2 separate regions of the Homo sapiens genome follow, and region 2 is linked to region 1. The links come from fine-mapping of genetic effects on gene expression. Tissue or cell type: blood mononuclear cells. Region 1 holds a variant in brackets; the other region holds the start of a gene. All regions are shown on one strand. Distances are from middle to middle.

Region 1 (8,179 bases):
TATATTGTCTTTCTGTACCGTCCATGAGAGGTCCAGACAGTGAGGACCATAGAGAACGGAGGCCAAGGTCCCTTTTGGCTTAGTTGACCAGAAGTAGCTTGCTGGAAAAGGCTCCTGTAGATGTTCCCTCTTCTAATACCCCTACCCAATGCTTTCTTTTTCTTCAACGTAGCCTCCAGAGAACTCCCAAATTAATTTTTCTAGGATACAGCTATGATCACCATGAACTCTACTCAAAAACCTTCAGTGATTCCCCTGAAATTCCCAAACTACTCTTCAGCCTGAAATGCAAGGTCTCGACTTCACCTTGGCTTTCTGACCTTCTCTCTGTCTACTCCCTCTCCCTATGTTCTTGCCAAATAGAACTATTTGCTAGTCTGCATGTAGGTCCACCTGCTGCTTCCAAGGCTCTTGGCATACCATTCCTACCACCTAGATGCCTTTTCCTCATCTTTGTCTCTCCAACTCTTACCCATCCTTCAGAGTCCAGCTTAAATATCACTTGCTAATGATAGTTACTAAGCTAGGGCAAATATATCTATATATCTATATATATATCTTTTTTTTTTTTTTTTTTGAGATGAAGTCTCTCTCTTGTTGCCCAGGCAGGAGTGCAGTGGCACGATCACTGCAACCTCCACCTCCCAGGTTCAAGCAATTCTCATTACTCAGCCTCCCAAGTAGCCGGGATTATAGGTGCTCACGACCATGCCAGGATGATATTTGTATTTTTAGTAAAGACGGGGTTTCACCATGTTGGCCAGGCTGGTCTCGAACTCCTTACCTCAGGTGATCCACCCACCTCGGCCTCCCAAAGTGCTGGGATTACAGGCGTGAGCCACCGCGCCCAGCCATCTTTTTTTTTTTTTTTGAGATGGAGTCTCACTCTGTCTCCCAGGTTGGAGTGCAGTGGCGCAATCTCGGCTCACTGCAACCTCCATCTCCTGGGTTCAAGCAATTCTCCTGCCTCAGCCTCCCAAGTTGCTGAGATTACAGGCACATGCCACCACGCCTGGCTAATTGTTTGTATTTTTAGTAGAGACAGGGTTTCACCATGTTGGCCAGGCTGGTCTTGAACTGCTGACCTCAGGTCATCTACCTCCTCTGCTTCCCAAAGTGCTGGGATTACAAGTGTGAGCCACTGTGCCCGGCCATATATATTTTTTATACCATGTGTTGTGGCTTATTTGTATGTCATTTCCTCTACTAGACGGCAAGCTCCTTGAAAGTGAATCCAGATCTCATTCATTCATACATTTTCCCGTATTCCAGTATCCTGGTATATCTTTGTATTTTTCTGTATCCCCATACACTAGTATCCTAACCCAGTTAGAGCTCCATAAATATCTATTGGATAAATTGATTTTTAAAATCAAAGAATAAAATACATAAGCAGAAGGATTGGCCTTCCCTGCCAATCTTCCTTTGAAGTGCTCATACCTTTACACATAGGTTTGGAGTCCTACAAAGCTCAGATAGGATTGAACCCAGTGGGGTAACATTGTAGAGAACAATGAGTCATTTGCATAGTAGGTTGTAGAGTAAGAGGATGGGACGTAGAGTTCAGGGTGAGGGTAGAGGAAGGGCTGTAATAGCAATGAATTTCATTCTTTGTTTTTTGTTTTTGTTTTTGTTTTTGTTTTTGAGACAGAGTCTCGCTCTGTCACCAAGGCTGGAATGCAGTGGTGTGATCACAGCTCACTGCAGCCTTGACCTCCTGAGCTCAAGCGATCCTCCTACCTCTGCCTTCTGAGCAGCTGGGACTACAGGCGTGTGCACAACCACACCTAGCTACTTTTAAAATTTTTTGTAGAGACAGGGTCTCACTGTGTTGCCCAGTCTGGTCTTGAACTCCTGGGCTCAAGCGATCCTTCTGCCTCAGCCTCCCAGAGTACTGGGATTGCAGGCATGAGCCACCATGCCCAGCCTCACTCTTTGAAATATTGCCCAACATCCTGGTATTTGAATTCACCTCCCTTGCCTGGTGCAAATTGTGGCACCTCAGCCAAACCTAGCAGCCTGGTCTGTCACTAATAAACCCCAGATCCCTTCCTAGCCTGTCGCCTCTCACTCATCCCAGGGTACATGCTGGTTGCAAACTAAGCCCAAGAGTGGATTTGGACGCAAGTTGGTAAATAACAACTAGGCTTTTAGATTCGGAGTTTGGATGATGAGAAAAGTGAAGTTTTGAGTGGGTGGGAAGAAACCTTCCCTGATTTTGGCTGGTACATTCAGAGACTCACAGCACTAACAGACAGGGCAGGCTGCCGGGGCAGGAACCCTGGGGAAAGGTGTGTCACACAGGGCCTGAGGTGAAGGGAGAGCTGCTCGGGTAGCAGTGGGGGAGGGGGACAGAGGCTGGGAGATCCTTCCTAGAGATGGGAGCAGCTTTCCACTTCAAGGACCACAGGTCTGCAGGCCCACAGCTCCTAGGACAGAAACTTACAAAACTGTCACTGTCAGGAGGGAGTGCTGGCTCTCAGATGGACTCTGTTCCTGAGCCCCTATCTTGCTTCCATTCACCTTGCACCAGCTGCCCAGAGAAGCTAGCCTTGAGCTGATGTCTACCTTTGCAATATTCCACCTGAGTGCATGCTGTCTTTTGCTGATCTGGTCTTCCAAAATCTAAGAAGCCTACAACAGCATTTTGGGATATGGGACATTTAGAGGTCTCATTACAAGTTCCATGGGACTTTTAGAAAAAGCTTAGATCTATGGACAACTAGGAGAAGGCAAATTTAAACTTGTTTGAAGCAACCCACACAAGAGCAGGTTTTCCTAACCTGGGCGGGGGTGTCCATAAATTCCCAAGGGGGTCCATGTGAACTCAGGAGGCGATGAACCTGCTGAAATTATGTGAAAAGTTATTCATGAAAAAAATTAAAATTAAAAAAAAAAGAAAAGCTATCCGTGTGTGACTGCATTTAGGGTGAGGTAGGGGGTCCATCACCTTTATCAGATTCTGAAAGGGTCTGTGACCCGAAAAGTTAAACAAAACAAAGCAACACATTTTTCTAGAGGATGAAGGTGGGAACTGGGTGTCAGGGGAATTTGGAGGACATTCTAACTCCTCCCACTTCCCATATGCTGCAAACGTGTGCAGTAGGAAACAATGACAAATACTAGGAAGTGGCAAGCATTTCTTAAAAAGGGCCTTTAAACAAATAGAGTCCTGAGCATTTCCCAGAGTTTCTTATAAAAGTTGTCTTCCTCTCTTTAGGTAGCCCCTTTCTTTCTTTCTTTCCTTTTTTTTTTTTTTTTTTTTTTTTTGAGACGGAGTCTCACTCTGTCACCCAGGCTGGAGTGCAGTGGCGTGATCTCAGCTCACAGCAAGCTCCGCTTCCCGGGTTCATGCCATTCTCCTGCTTCAGCCTCCTGAGTAGCTGGGACTACAGGCACCCACCACCGCACCCGGCTAATTTTTTGTATTTTTTAGTAGAGACGGGGTTTCACCGTGGTCTCGATCTCCTGACCTCATGATCCGCCCGCCTCGGCCTCCCAGAGTGCTGGGATTACAGGCATGAGCCACTGCGCCTGGCCTTTTTTTTTTTTTTTTTCCCGACACAGTCTTGCTCTGTCACCCAGGATGGAGTACAGTGGCGTGATCTCAGCTCACTGCAGCCTCCGCCTCCCAGGTTCAAGCAGTTCTCTACCTCAGCCTCCTGAGCAGCTGGGATTACAGGCACCTGCCACCATGCCTGGCTAATTTTAGTAGAGACAGTGTTTCGCCATCTTGGCCAGGCTGGTCACGAACTCCTGACCTTGTGATCCACCCACCTCGGCCTCCCAAAGTGCTGGGATTACAGGTGTGAGCCACAGTGC[G/C]TGGCCACACTATTCTTTCTCTCTCTTTTTTTTTTTTTTTCTGAGACGGAGTCTCACTCTGTCACCAGGCTGGAGTGCAGTGGCGCAATCTTGGCTCACTGCAACCTCTGCCTCCCGGGTTCAAGTGATTCTCCTGCCTCAGTCTCCTGAGTAGCTGGGACTACAGGCACACGCCACTATGCCCAGCTAATTTTTGTATTTTTAGTAGAGATGGGGTTTCACCATGTTGGCCAGGATGGTCTTGATCTCTTGATCTCCCATCTCCCGTCTCGGCCTCCCAAAGTGCTGGGATTACAGTTGTGAACCACTGTGCCCAGGCTCTCTCTCTTTTCTTTTCTGTTTTCTTTTTTTCTTTTCTTTTTCTTTTCTTTCTTTCTTTTTTTTTCTTTTTCTTTCTTTTCTTTTTGACAGGGTCTTACCCTGTCACCTAGGGTGGAGTGCAGTGGTGCAATCACAGCTCACTACAGCCTCAAACTCTCAGGATCAAGCAATTCTCCCATTTCAGCCTCCCAAGTAGCTGGGACTACAAGTGTGTGCCATCATGCCTGGCTAATTTTTTTTTTAAATTTTTTTATAGAGATGGCATCTCTCTATGTTGCCCAGGCTGGTCTTGAACTTCTGGGCTCAAGCAATCCTCCTGCCTCAGCCTCCTAAAGTGCTGGGATTACAGGTGTGAATCACCATGCCTGGTTGTACACTACTCTTTCTTACTTGTCTCTCCTTCTAGTTTGTCTTCACTGCCACAGGGGAACCTCTTCTAGTAGCTGCTATTTCTTCAAGAAGGACGTGAAGCTAGAGACTCAGGAGTGCTTGTTTGTTAGGTTGGAATTAGGAGCCACATCCAGGAGAGGCTGAGTAAGTCCTTCATCTCATCCAGTGGTAGCCAAACTTTTCAAGCCTGAGTACCTCTTTAAGACTTCAAAACCTTAGCTGGGAGCAGTGGTTCATGCCTGTAATCCCAGCACTCTGGGAGGCCGAGGTGGGTGGATCACCTGAGGTCAGGAGTTTAAGACCAGCCTGGCCAACATGGCAAAACCCCGTCTCTACTAAAAATACAAAAATTAGCCAGGCATTGTGGCGCACACCTGTAATCCCAGCTACTCCGGAGGCTGAGGCAGGAGAATTACTCCAACCCAGGAGGCAGAGGTTGCAGTGAGCCAAGATTGCGCCACTGCACTCCAGCCTGGGTGACAGAGTAAGACTCTGTCTCAAAAACAAACAAACAAACAAACAAACAAACTTCAAAACCACTTTTGGATCCTTCCAAGTAATCATAATTGTACTTTTAGTATCTACAAATGAAGAACTGCATGCTGAGAAAAAGCTACCATGCATTCAGTAATACTTTTTACATGTATCTTAAAAATTATAGCAGCACCTCTGTGCATTTGACAAACAGCACAGGCTTTATGTGTGAGACGCATCATCTATTTGTTCTCTAGGCAATGTTTGCTGTGCATCTGGATTCAGGGACCCCATACTGTCTGAGACCCTCTCCCCTTCCCGCAAAGCGGGGATCGCTGGTCTAATTTAAGCTGTTTATTTTATAGATGAAGAAACTGTGGTCTAGGAAAACAAAGCTCCTAGTGAAGTAGTTTGGGGCCCATTTCCATCCAGGTCTCTTGACTATGTCAAGAGATGCCCATGGCATGATGCCCACGAGCTATAGAATGGACACTCAGCTATGACATCCAGTTTCCCACTCCCATACTGCCTGTGCTCTCCCGTCACTAGGAGGTGTCCAAAGGGATGAAAGGACGCTTTAGGGCTTGCCTGATCTGGGAAACAGTCAGACAAGAGAGTGAACCATGAAACACCAGGCCCTGGCAACAAACTGGAGCACAAAGCCATGACACGGCTGCCATGGGCTGAGGATGCCAAGCTGGCAGCTGAGCCCTCCCTCACTTAGTCCTCACTATAACCCTGACCATTAAGGAATATTATCTTCACTTTATAGATGAGGAAACTGAAGCTTAGAGAGGTCAATGACAATGTCACACAGTTACTAAAAGCTGCAGAGATAGGACTCAAAGCCAAGTCTAAATCCAGACCCTGAAATGGTAGTCACTATGCAATACTACTTTATGTAAGGCTGCTGGGCTCAGGATACTTGGGGCTTCTTCAGGACAAAGTTACTTTGCTACCCCTTTTCCCAAGGAATCATTCTAAACCCAGCCACAGCTTACCAAGAATGTGTAAGCCCCTCTCTTCCGGGAGACTATCTGCAGCACCAAGCATCTTGGCCACATCCTGCAAGGGCCCAGGAGGACTCCGCAGGCAATATGCCACCCTTGGAGGACACAGCGTTCTTTACATTCTAATTCTAGCTCACAGCCTGTGTACAAAGGAGGTTAGAAAGGGTGAGTTCCTATGCTCATTCCCACCTCTCTCCTCAGTTCACACACTGACTGCAGGGTGTGGGGCTGTGTAAAGATCGCCCCACTCCATGAAGCTCTTCAGAACTAGAGGAGCCCACACTGATTTTTCTCATTCCTTCTAAAGCATGTTCTCTTTGGCCATTAACATAGCTTCTGCCTTTTCTCTTTTTTGAATCACATATGAGAATCTTATATTGCCAGCAAGCACCTTGTAAGCAGGGGCCAAGTCCTAAACATACTCTCCATCCCCTACCCCAAGTGCCCAGCTTGGGGCTGCACACACCATCAACTCCTGATAAATACTTGCTGGACTCCATCCAATGGTCCTGACAATAAACTGCCCCCCTCCTGGACCATTCCTTCTAGCCACTGCTCTCCTCAAAAGAAATTGCGGGCACCTCACTCCCCAACTATTTCTCCACAAGGCACGTGACCTTTAGAAGTTCTGGGATTTAGTTTTGCTGCCCCTGTCAGAAAGAAGCCTGACCTTTCTGATAATCTGTTGTTTGTGGGGACCCATGGAGAATACACGAGACCAGTTTTTCTGCACCTGAACAGGGCTCTCTGAGAGCTCTGAGAGGCCATTGGAGGCCTTGGCTCTAAACCATCTGAGTCTAGAGCCAAAGCCAGAGATGGAGGGAGTCGGGTGTTTGCTCTTCTCCACTCTTGCCACCTTCTCAAGGGCTCCCGGTAACCAAGTGTGTTTGCCTTTTGCTACCCTGGGAGGCCAAGAGCCTCCTTTTCCCTGCAGATGGAGACAGAACTTCTGCGATAAGAGGCAATTCGGCTCCTGATCCAAAACTGCAGTCTCCTTGGAGCCCGAGGCTCTGGTGCCATGACTGAGAGGGCCCTGGGCCACAGTGCTGTCAGACTGACCTTCACTGGGTCAACCCAGATCACTAACCAAAGCCTGCTGGTAGGTTATATGCCTCTCTGAGCCTCAGTTTCTTCCTCTGTAAAATAGACAGATCAGGCACAACTGATTACTAAAGCCCTTCCTGTGGTAAGTTTCCATAGTCCTAAAACGCCTCTGGGCCCTGAGTCCTAAAATGCTGTTCTGGGGTTCCAGAGTGGCATACTGCCTTCTCAACACTCCCCCCTCACCCCCACCTCATTACCAACTCCTCACCCCCACCTTATTACCAACTCCTCACCCCCACCTCATTACCAACTCCTCACCCCCACCTCATTACCAACTCCTCACCCCCACCTCATTACCAACTCCTCACCCCCACCTCCTCATTACCAACTCCTCACCCCCACCTCCTCATTACCAACTCTCCACGGGACTTTTAACCACATACTGCAGCCGCACTTTGGCATTGTCCAGCAAGGAGCTCCTACGGGTTCAGATGGTCCTATTGACAGAACAGGGTTGCTGCCACCTAGCACCCTAGAAAACTTCCGAAGGAGAGAGAGGAGGCTTTTATGCAGTCTGACATTAAATCCGTAAATCAGAATCCCCCCTTATCCCTTTCAGACCACCAGAGTACGTTATTCACTGAATAATGTTAAAAACAGCAATAATATCTGAAAATTTTACCTGGGCACCAAGTGCCCAGAGAAAGAGGCACCTGGTGTTGGATGGACTTGAGTGTCAGGGCCCTGGGGTGAGCAAGGGCTTGGAGAACAAGTGACTTCAGACTGACCTGTGAGGGAGAGGCCCCTTCTTAGGAGGCAGGGCCCTGACCTCGCTGCCCAACAGAAGTTGCCCAATCTCTGTGGCTAAACAAAGAGAGCTGAGATGAGGAAACCAGAACGTCCTGGGGAGTGAGCGCAGAGCACAGAAAACACGGCGACGCCAGCGGGGCTGCAGCTGGGAGTGCTCAGCCAGCCGGCCTTCTGTGTAGGAAAGCCCTGGGGGAGCTCAGGGACCTGTGAGAAGAAGCACAGCAGCCTGAGCCTTTTATCCCCAGGAGCTTCAGAGCTGCACAGGCATCCTCTAATGTCAAGGCCAGAAAGAAAGGGGATGTGAACTG
Region 2 (8,179 bases), 41 kb before region 1:
TGCATGTGGTGCTTTTATATCCCCGCAGTGTTTAACCCAATATCCACGTGGTAGAGACTCAGTAGTTGCCTCTCAAGTGGGAATTAGACTTCAAAGACTCTGATTAAATCCTAGAGCAGGGGTCAGCAGACTATAGCCTGTGGAGCCAACTCCGGTCTGTTTTTATGAATATCTGACTCTTTTTGTAAATAAAGTTTTATTGGAACACTCCCACACTCGTTCATTTACATGTTGTCTATGACTGCTTTCACATTATTATAGAAGTGAGTCATCGCAGCAGAAACCATATGACACACAAAGGCTAAAAAATATTGGCTCTCTGGCCCCTTACAGAAAAAGTTTACTGGCTGGGCATGGTGACCCACGCCTGTAATTCCAGCACTTTGAGAGATCGAGGTGAGCGGATCGCTTGAGCTCAGGAGTTTGAGGCCAGCCTGGGCAACATGGCGAAACCCCCGTCTCTACAAAAAATACAGAAATTAGCCAGGCATGGTGGCACGCGCCTGTAATCCCAGCTACTGGGCTGGGGGTTGGGGCCTGAGGTGGGAGGATCACTTAAGCCCAGGAGGCAGAGATTGCAGTGAGCAGAGACTGTGCCACTGCACACCAGCCTGGGTGACAGAGTGAGACCCCGTCTCAAAAAATTAAAATTAAAATTAAAAAAGCTTCATATAGCAATTTGAATTTTATAAAAGGGAAAAATGAAAAAGAAAAACTTTGCTGACCCCTGGTCCAGGGTTACAGCGTGATATGGTAGATAAACCATTTTCCAAAGCCTTTTTTCTGTTTACTTCCAAATGATGCTTATGAGATGGGGAAAGGTCCAAATCCAGAAAGATCTTGCCAAACCAAAACCATTATTATAACCAATTACAGCTGTTTCCTTTTCAAACCAATGTGCTTATTAATAGGAAATTTTTTGAAATATATTCGAGTACTTTTCTCTTTTGCATTTTTTTGTTCCTGTTTCCCTCTATTCAGCCAGATGTATCCATATTATTTAAAAGATAATGAGGATTTTCACAACAGGAGTGCAAAGAGAAATAAATAGTTAATATTTTGCTTCTGGCATCCGAAATAAGGTTTTCCAGAAAGTTTTTTTTTTTTTTTAAGACATGGTCTTGCTTTGTCAACTCAGGCTGGAGTACAGTGTCATGATCATAGCTCACTGCAGCCTTCAGCTCCCAGGCTCAAGCAATCCTCCCACCTCAGCCTCCCAAGTACCTGGGACTACAGGTGCTGCAAGCTGCCACATCTAGCTAAATTAAAAAAAAATTTTTTTTTTGTAGAGACAGGATCTCACTGTGTTTCCCAGGCTGGTCTTGAACCCCTGGGCTCAAGTGACCTCCTGCCTCTACTTCCCACAATGCTGGGATTACAGGTGTGAGCCACCATGTCCAGCCAAAAAGTTCTTCTACAGATGGGATCTCACTATGTTGCTCAAGCTGGTCTTGAACTCCTGGGCTCAAGAGATCCTCCGGCTTTGGCCTCCCGAAGTGCTGGGATCACAGGTATGAGCCATGCTGCCCAGCCAAGACAATATTTTTGACAACCAGGTTTTCTTGAGAGAGAGGATTTTCTAAATTTCTTCATTTCCCTTTGAATTGTTGTCATAGAGTTCTACATCAGATACATCCCAGCCAAACAGGAAAAAAAAAAAAAAAAAGAAGACAAAGCGTACATTTTCTGATTCTAGATTAAGGGGACTATGGGAAGAAGTAATCTCAGCTACTCGGGAGGCTGAGGCAGGAGAATCGTTTGAACCCAGGAGGCAGAAGTTGCAGTGAGCCGAGATGGCGCCACTGCACTCCAGCTTGTGCAACAGAGCGAGACTCCATCTCAAAAAAAAAAAAGTGCTTAGAATAGTGCTTGATACATAGTGGTATTATTATGAGCGGTGGGGTGATAGATATTACTGGTAGACTTTTTAAGGAGTGCTGAGAAGAGTGGGTTCCAGGTCTCATTTCCATTCAGGAATGTGGAAGGAGATCACCTCGCAGACTGCCCTGTGTCAGTTGGAGCAGCCACATCAGAGCAAACTCTGCTGGAAGTGGGGCTGAGCTTGCCTTTCCCCTGCCCTTCGTCAGCAGCCCTCAGTCCCCATGTGCCTAAGGGGGCTCAGGAGCACTGGTCAAGCATCTCACAGGAAAATTTCGAGGGGCTTATCTTAGAGATGTGGGCCACTGAGCGGATACAGTGGGATGGGGGCACATACAAGTCAAAGCCAGGTCTCAGGATGGTCCACATTGCCACGAGCCAAGGTAGCGCAGACAGCAAGGGAGAACACTGGATCTCAAAGGCAGAAAGAGAATCACCCATGAGTGACTCTGGCCTAATATCAGACATCAGCCACCAAGGCCAGCAGAAGACCCAGGAGCAGGACCTGTGTCTCCTCAGCAGTCAGCAATTCGGGCGGGCCCGTGGGCCCAGCAGCTCCAGAACAGAAAGGAGCCGAGATGGAGAGGCCACAGGATAGATGCAAGAACCGTCCCCACCCCGCCCTCCTGTGCACCTAGGTGCCATCTTCTGCAAATCCGAAAGACTGAGCATTGTGTCTAAAGTGGACTGTTTACCATTTAAATGATTAAATCCAACTATGCTTCATAGATTAGACTAAAATATGGCCCCCATCCAATCATCCAACCCTCCCTCGCACCACTGTCCAGAGGGATGGGAACTTATAAAGGCATTTCATAGAACTGAAGAAATCGCCTTTTTTTTTTTTTACATTTGAATGTGGTGAGGGTAAACGTGTTGACTCTGCCTGTCTTCCTCCTGCCCGCACCTCTTCAAGCCCTGAATTGGATTACAGGTTAACACCCTGCCATGCACGTCTACAGACATACCCACACCCACACCTGCACAAGCTTGTGTCTAAACCTTGCTTCAGGAACAAGCCAGAAGAGTTTTGGGCTCTAAGGTAAACAGGAGAGGAAAAAAAAAACTTTCTAAAAAAAGACTCCCTCCTGGTAATTTTATTTTAAAAGTAGGGAGAATACCACTGTTTGCATAAACAAGCTTCGAAGGTACAACTACTCCCTGCTCCCTCTATGGCTAATCAAGGGAGGAGTTGAAGGAATCAAACAATCCGTCAGTAAAAACGTATTGTTCACTCACTTTGCAGAACAAAGCCTATGCTTTGGAGCCTATTAGGTAAACTACAATTTTTTTAAAAACTTTTAGGGATATAGGGAACAAAGCAAAGAACAACGGAAATCCCTCTGCCTCAGTATTGAGACTGTGCTGGAGGTCACTCCACCCGTGGCGACTGGGGACTGGACCCAGCGGTGAAGTCAGATAGCGTTGTCCTCAGGCTGTTTTTCAATTTGCTTGATAAACATGCAGGATTTCTTTGCCAGTCATAAAGCTACTAGCTCAAAGCAGGCTGGGTGACCTCAGATGGCTCCGCTGGGACTGGAAGGTCACTGGAGCCACTGGTGAAAATGATGCTGTCACTACCAACTCAAAAGGTCACCTATCAGTGTGCCATGTGCCACCTCCTGGAGCACACACATGTGCACACACATACACTCACACGTGTGTGCAGGTGCACACCTCCCCCAGAGGCTGCAGCCAAGACGGGCATCCCACATCAGAGGGATGAATGGCAGGTCTGTCCCGCCAGCTGTGTGCTCTCTCCCACCCGAAGAAAGCAGCAGAGACTCAGACGGCGGAGCCTGGAGGAGCCCACGCAGTCTGTTCCCGGCACCCGGTGCGTGTGAAGGGACTTGAGGGCAGCGAGATGGAATCAGCAAGAGAAAACATCGACCTTCAAGTAAGTTCTCTCTGGAAGAGAGCAGAGGGGAGACCGGGAGTAGAGGTGAAGCTGGAAGAACAGAGGATTGATACTTTAGTCACTTGATATTCTCCCTCCCCGTTCTCTTCTTACTCACTCCCTTCTCCAAATGCTCCCTAGGCTTTGTCTCTTTATTTTCTCTTTCTCTCTGTTTCCCTATCTGGTTCTTCACTTGTTTTGAAATATCTGAAAAACAGATTGGTTAACTCCCTTTTGGCCTCTGCTTCCTCTTGTCAGTCAAAGAGCTAATTAGATCCGTATTACCAGAAAATGATTTCACATTCTGAGCAGTGCTTTCCCCAAACCCCAGGACAGTAGAGACTTCTCTTAGAGCTGCCGGGGAGACAGGAAATATATGAGTTTTGAGGCTAGGAAGAGAGGCAGCTGGCCAACTTTGCATTTTACAGGTTGGAAAAAACTTGAGCCGTTTCTCGGCTGTCTTCACAAAGCTCTACTGTGTAGGACAGAAAGCGTCTCATTTGGACAGTGCAAGGAAAGGAAATCAGTCTAATCTCCTAGGAAGAGGCAGAGATGTGTGTCCCTCTGTAGCTGGGATGGGCTTGGAAGGCATCAGAGGTTCCAGTCCACTGCTGGAGGGGAAAGGGTGGGATGTTACGGTGAGAGGAGAGCCAGATTGCTGGGAGCTGCACTCTGTGACTCCTTGCCAATGGATAGAATAGAACGAACCCTTCTATGACCACTGCTGAGGCTGTGTAACATTGCAGAGAATCAAACAAAGTGTGGAAAAGGACTTTTGAGATCAAGAATTTCTGATCCCTGAACCTGGTCCTCGAACAAAATCTTAAGCAGCCACCCAATATACACTTCGGATTAAAGAAGAGCTGTTTTGTTGAAGCAGAGTATGTGCACGCGTCTCTCTCTCTCTCTCTCTCTCTCGTTCTCTGTGTGTGTTTTGGGCAGGGTGGCGTGAGTCTGGCAGAGTCTCTGTCCTTGGCCCCTCCGCCCTTGAGACACCACCAGGGAACTGTAGGACTGCTTGGTGTGCTGTGTCAAAACCATTCACCTAGTACAACTGCATACCCAGTGCTGTTTTCCTGGATTGGCAGCCAGCCCCGAGAGCGGTCCCACCGCAAGGCTTGCTTGTCCCTCTGTCTGGAACCTTCTTTCCCTGGCTTATCTCCTGGCTGGCCCTTCCTAGTACATTCAGGTCTCAGCTCAAATGTTACTTCCCCCAGGAGCCCTCCCCTGACCAACCTCTTCACAGGATGCCTCCTCCCCAATTTGTCTTTATCATTTGTTTAATTTCTTTCATAGCACTGCTCACCACCTAAAGTTACACTGCTTATTTATTTAGTATGTATTGCCTGTCACTCTCACTAGGACACAAGATCTCTGAGGGCAGGGCCTCTCCTGTTTTATTCACTGCTGCAGCCCGAGTGCATGAGGCAACTCTTGGTACACGGTCATTGCTTTAGAAAACATTTGTTAAATGAATGAGTTGAGGAAGCCATGAGTTGGAGAGGCTCTGAGATAGGAATAAGGTCACCTAATTGGCCCAAGACCTCCAGTCCATGTCTTCTGTCCCTAGTATGTGTTTTCTTCTTACTTCTAGTTCTTGCCTCTATAAGATCCTTGGTTGTTAAGGAAATTGTGTTGCTGCTTATTTTCATTCTCAGAAGAGCAAGTTTCTTATGTGCTGATGGGTTGAACGATCCAGAGTTACAGGCTAAGGACTCTGCATCTGAACCAGAGGTTCAGAAGGAAAGAGGTGGTGGGAGGAAGGAGAAGGAAATGACTGGCTAGGCTGGATGAATGTCTCTCTCTAGCAGGTAACTGAGGTGTTAGTGTACCTTTCTCTTCATTTGTCATTCACTCTCTTCTAATATGCTATTTAATTCTTGTATCTTACATTTTCCTTTGCTCAGAAGGTTATCCATTATTTTCTACAATTTATTGTCCACCTTTGGCTGGGCACGGTGGCCTACGCCTGTAATCCTAGCATTTTGGAGGCTGAGGCAGGAGGATCACTTGAGCTCAAGAGCTAGAGATCAGCCTGGGCAACATAGCAAGACCCTATCTCTATTAAAAATTTAAAAGTAATTAGCTAGGCATGGTGGCATGCACCTGTAGTCCCCACTACTCGGGAGGCTGAGGTGGGAGGATTGTTTGAAGCCAGGAGTTCAAGGTTGCAGTGAGCTACAATCATGCCATTGCACTCCAGCCTGGGCGGCAGAGCCAGACCCTATCTCTAAAAACAAAACAATAACACTCTTTAGTTAAAACAATGTTTCCCCAAAATGTGGTACAATTATCACCAATGGGTGGTAAAGGTACATCAATGGCTGACAGCTTTTTATTATAATGTTTATTTTTACAGTTTTTTTTGAGATGGAGTCTCACTCTGTCGCCTAGGGTGGAGTGTAGTGGCAAAATCTCAGCTCACTGCAACCTCCGCCTCCTGGGTTCAAGTGATTCTCCTGCCTCAGCTTCCCAAGTAGCTGGGATTATAGGCATGTACCACCACACTTGGCTAATTTTCATATTTTTAGTAGAGACAGGGTTTCATCATATTGGCCAGGCTAGTCTTGCACTCCTGACCTCAAATGATCCACAAGCCTCGGCCTCCCAAAGTGCTGGGATTACAGGTGTGAGCCACCATAGCTGGCCATCTTTATAGTTTCAGTATTCATTAGAAAGAGCATAACAGGGCCGGGCTAGGTGGCTCACGCCTGTAACCCCAGCACTTTGGGAGTCTGAGGTGGGCGGATCACGAGGTCAGGGGTTGCAGACCATCCTGGCCAACATAGTGAAACCCTGTCTCTACTAAAAATACAAAAATTAGCTAGGCGTGGTGGTGTACGCCTGTAGTCCCAGCTACTCAGGAGGCTGAGGCAGGAGAGTTGCTTGAACCTGGGAGGCAGAGGTTGTGGTGAGCGGAGATCGTGCCACTGCACTTTTGAGACTCTGTCTCAAAAAAAAAAAAAAGAAAAGAAAAAAGAAAGAAAGCATAACAACTTATCAGACCTGTGATTCCTTTTTTTTTTTTTTTTTTTTTTAACAGACAGGATCTTGCTGTGTCACACAGGCAGGAGTGCAGTGGTGCAATCTTGGCTCACTGCAGCCTTAACCTCCTGGGCCCAAGTTATCCTCCTGCCTCAGCCTCCTAAATAGCTGGGACCACACATGTGCACTACCATGCCCAGCTAATTTTTTTTTTCTTTTTTTAGTGATTGGGGTCTCACTGTATTGCCCAGGCTGGTCTCTAACTGCTGGTCTCAAGTGATCTTCCTGTCTTGGCCTCCCAAAGTGTTGGGATTACAGGCATGAGCCACATGTCCAGGCAATTCCAACATTTTTATTGCTTAGGATGAGCCTCAAGTAAGTGGCAGGAAGTTTTTTGACACCTTTATACAGTCCTTGCACATGACCTGGGCATACCCTCAATGTCTTAGTAACTGTTTCTGTCTGACCTGTTCAGAAGTACGGCAGCCCTGGGTGACATGGATCACAGGTGTGTGTGCCCGCACCTACTACTGCACTGAGACGTTGAAACCCTGAACATGGCACAACTGAAGTTTGGGAAACTCTAATCTAAAATAACATTAACTTGAGCCTCTATAATCAATGTTGCAAATGTATCTCCAGGTCAAGACCTGTGAGACTGGGATGGGTAGCAGCAGCACAGCTGGCTGTGAAGAGTGGCGCACAGCACTCAGGGCAGGTGGCCTCCACCAGCTGGATGCCTGGAGCTGCTCCTTCTGTTCTATGGCCTGTGGCTGTGGCCTCCAAGCCTCTGCCCTTCTCCCTGCCTTCACTGGTAGCCCTGCCAGGGAGCTAAGCCTGCGCATCTCCCAGAGTCTGGATGTGTGAAAGGTTGAGGATAATCCCTTTCTTCCCCTTCGAGCCAGTGTTGCAACCCTACCCCCAAGTACAGAGTTTAAGCCCCTAGCCTGGCTCCTTCCCAAAATGCAGCTCCTCTTGGGCTTCCAGATTCCCCAGGCAGATCCAGTTATTGGCCCCTTTTTTTCCACCTGTGCTGCATGTTGATGGAAATGTGAAGATGATCTGCCAAAAGAGGAACTAAGACTTGTCCAAACCGAATGCAAATTCAGTATAGCTCAGGTTAAGTAGAGCGAGATACAGATAGAATGAGATGGGAGTGGAGGTAAAAACACTTATGAATAGAAGAAGGTCTATAGGCAAAGTACTCTGGGAGTGTTTTTGTTTGTTTGTTTGTTTTATTGTTTTTAAAGACATATATATATATAAGCAGTTATATATTATATATATATTATATATAATATATAATAGCAGTTATATATAGAGAGAATAGCAACTATATATGTAATAGCAGTTTTAGGTTCATGGCAAAATGGAGAAGGAAGGCCAGAGATCTCCCATATAGCCCCTTGCCCCACATGC

What was found. PIP is the estimated chance that this variant, and not a neighbour inherited with it, causes the effect.
Region 2: it holds the start of NINJ2, and the variant in region 1 is fine-mapped to the expression of NINJ2 in blood mononuclear cells (TOPMed, PIP above 0.99). The same link has a PIP of 0.9 or more in lung.

The regions. Positions count from the first base shown.
Region 1 is chr12:617,501-625,679 of GRCh38, reverse strand. All of the region lies in intron 1 of NINJ2 (ninjurin 2), which reads left to right. Among named protein-coding and RNA genes, the nearest start is that of NINJ2-AS1, 9.3 kb to the left of the region's middle. RefSeq lists enhancers at 1,223-1,966, 1,967-2,711. The variant G/C (reference allele first, on the strand shown) is at 3,823.
Region 2 is chr12:658,924-667,102 of GRCh38, reverse strand. NINJ2 (ninjurin 2) reads left to right here and starts at 3,658. Exons shown (of 4, transcript NM_016533.6): 1 at 3,658-3,775. The coding sequence starts at 3,743. RefSeq lists an enhancer at 1-460.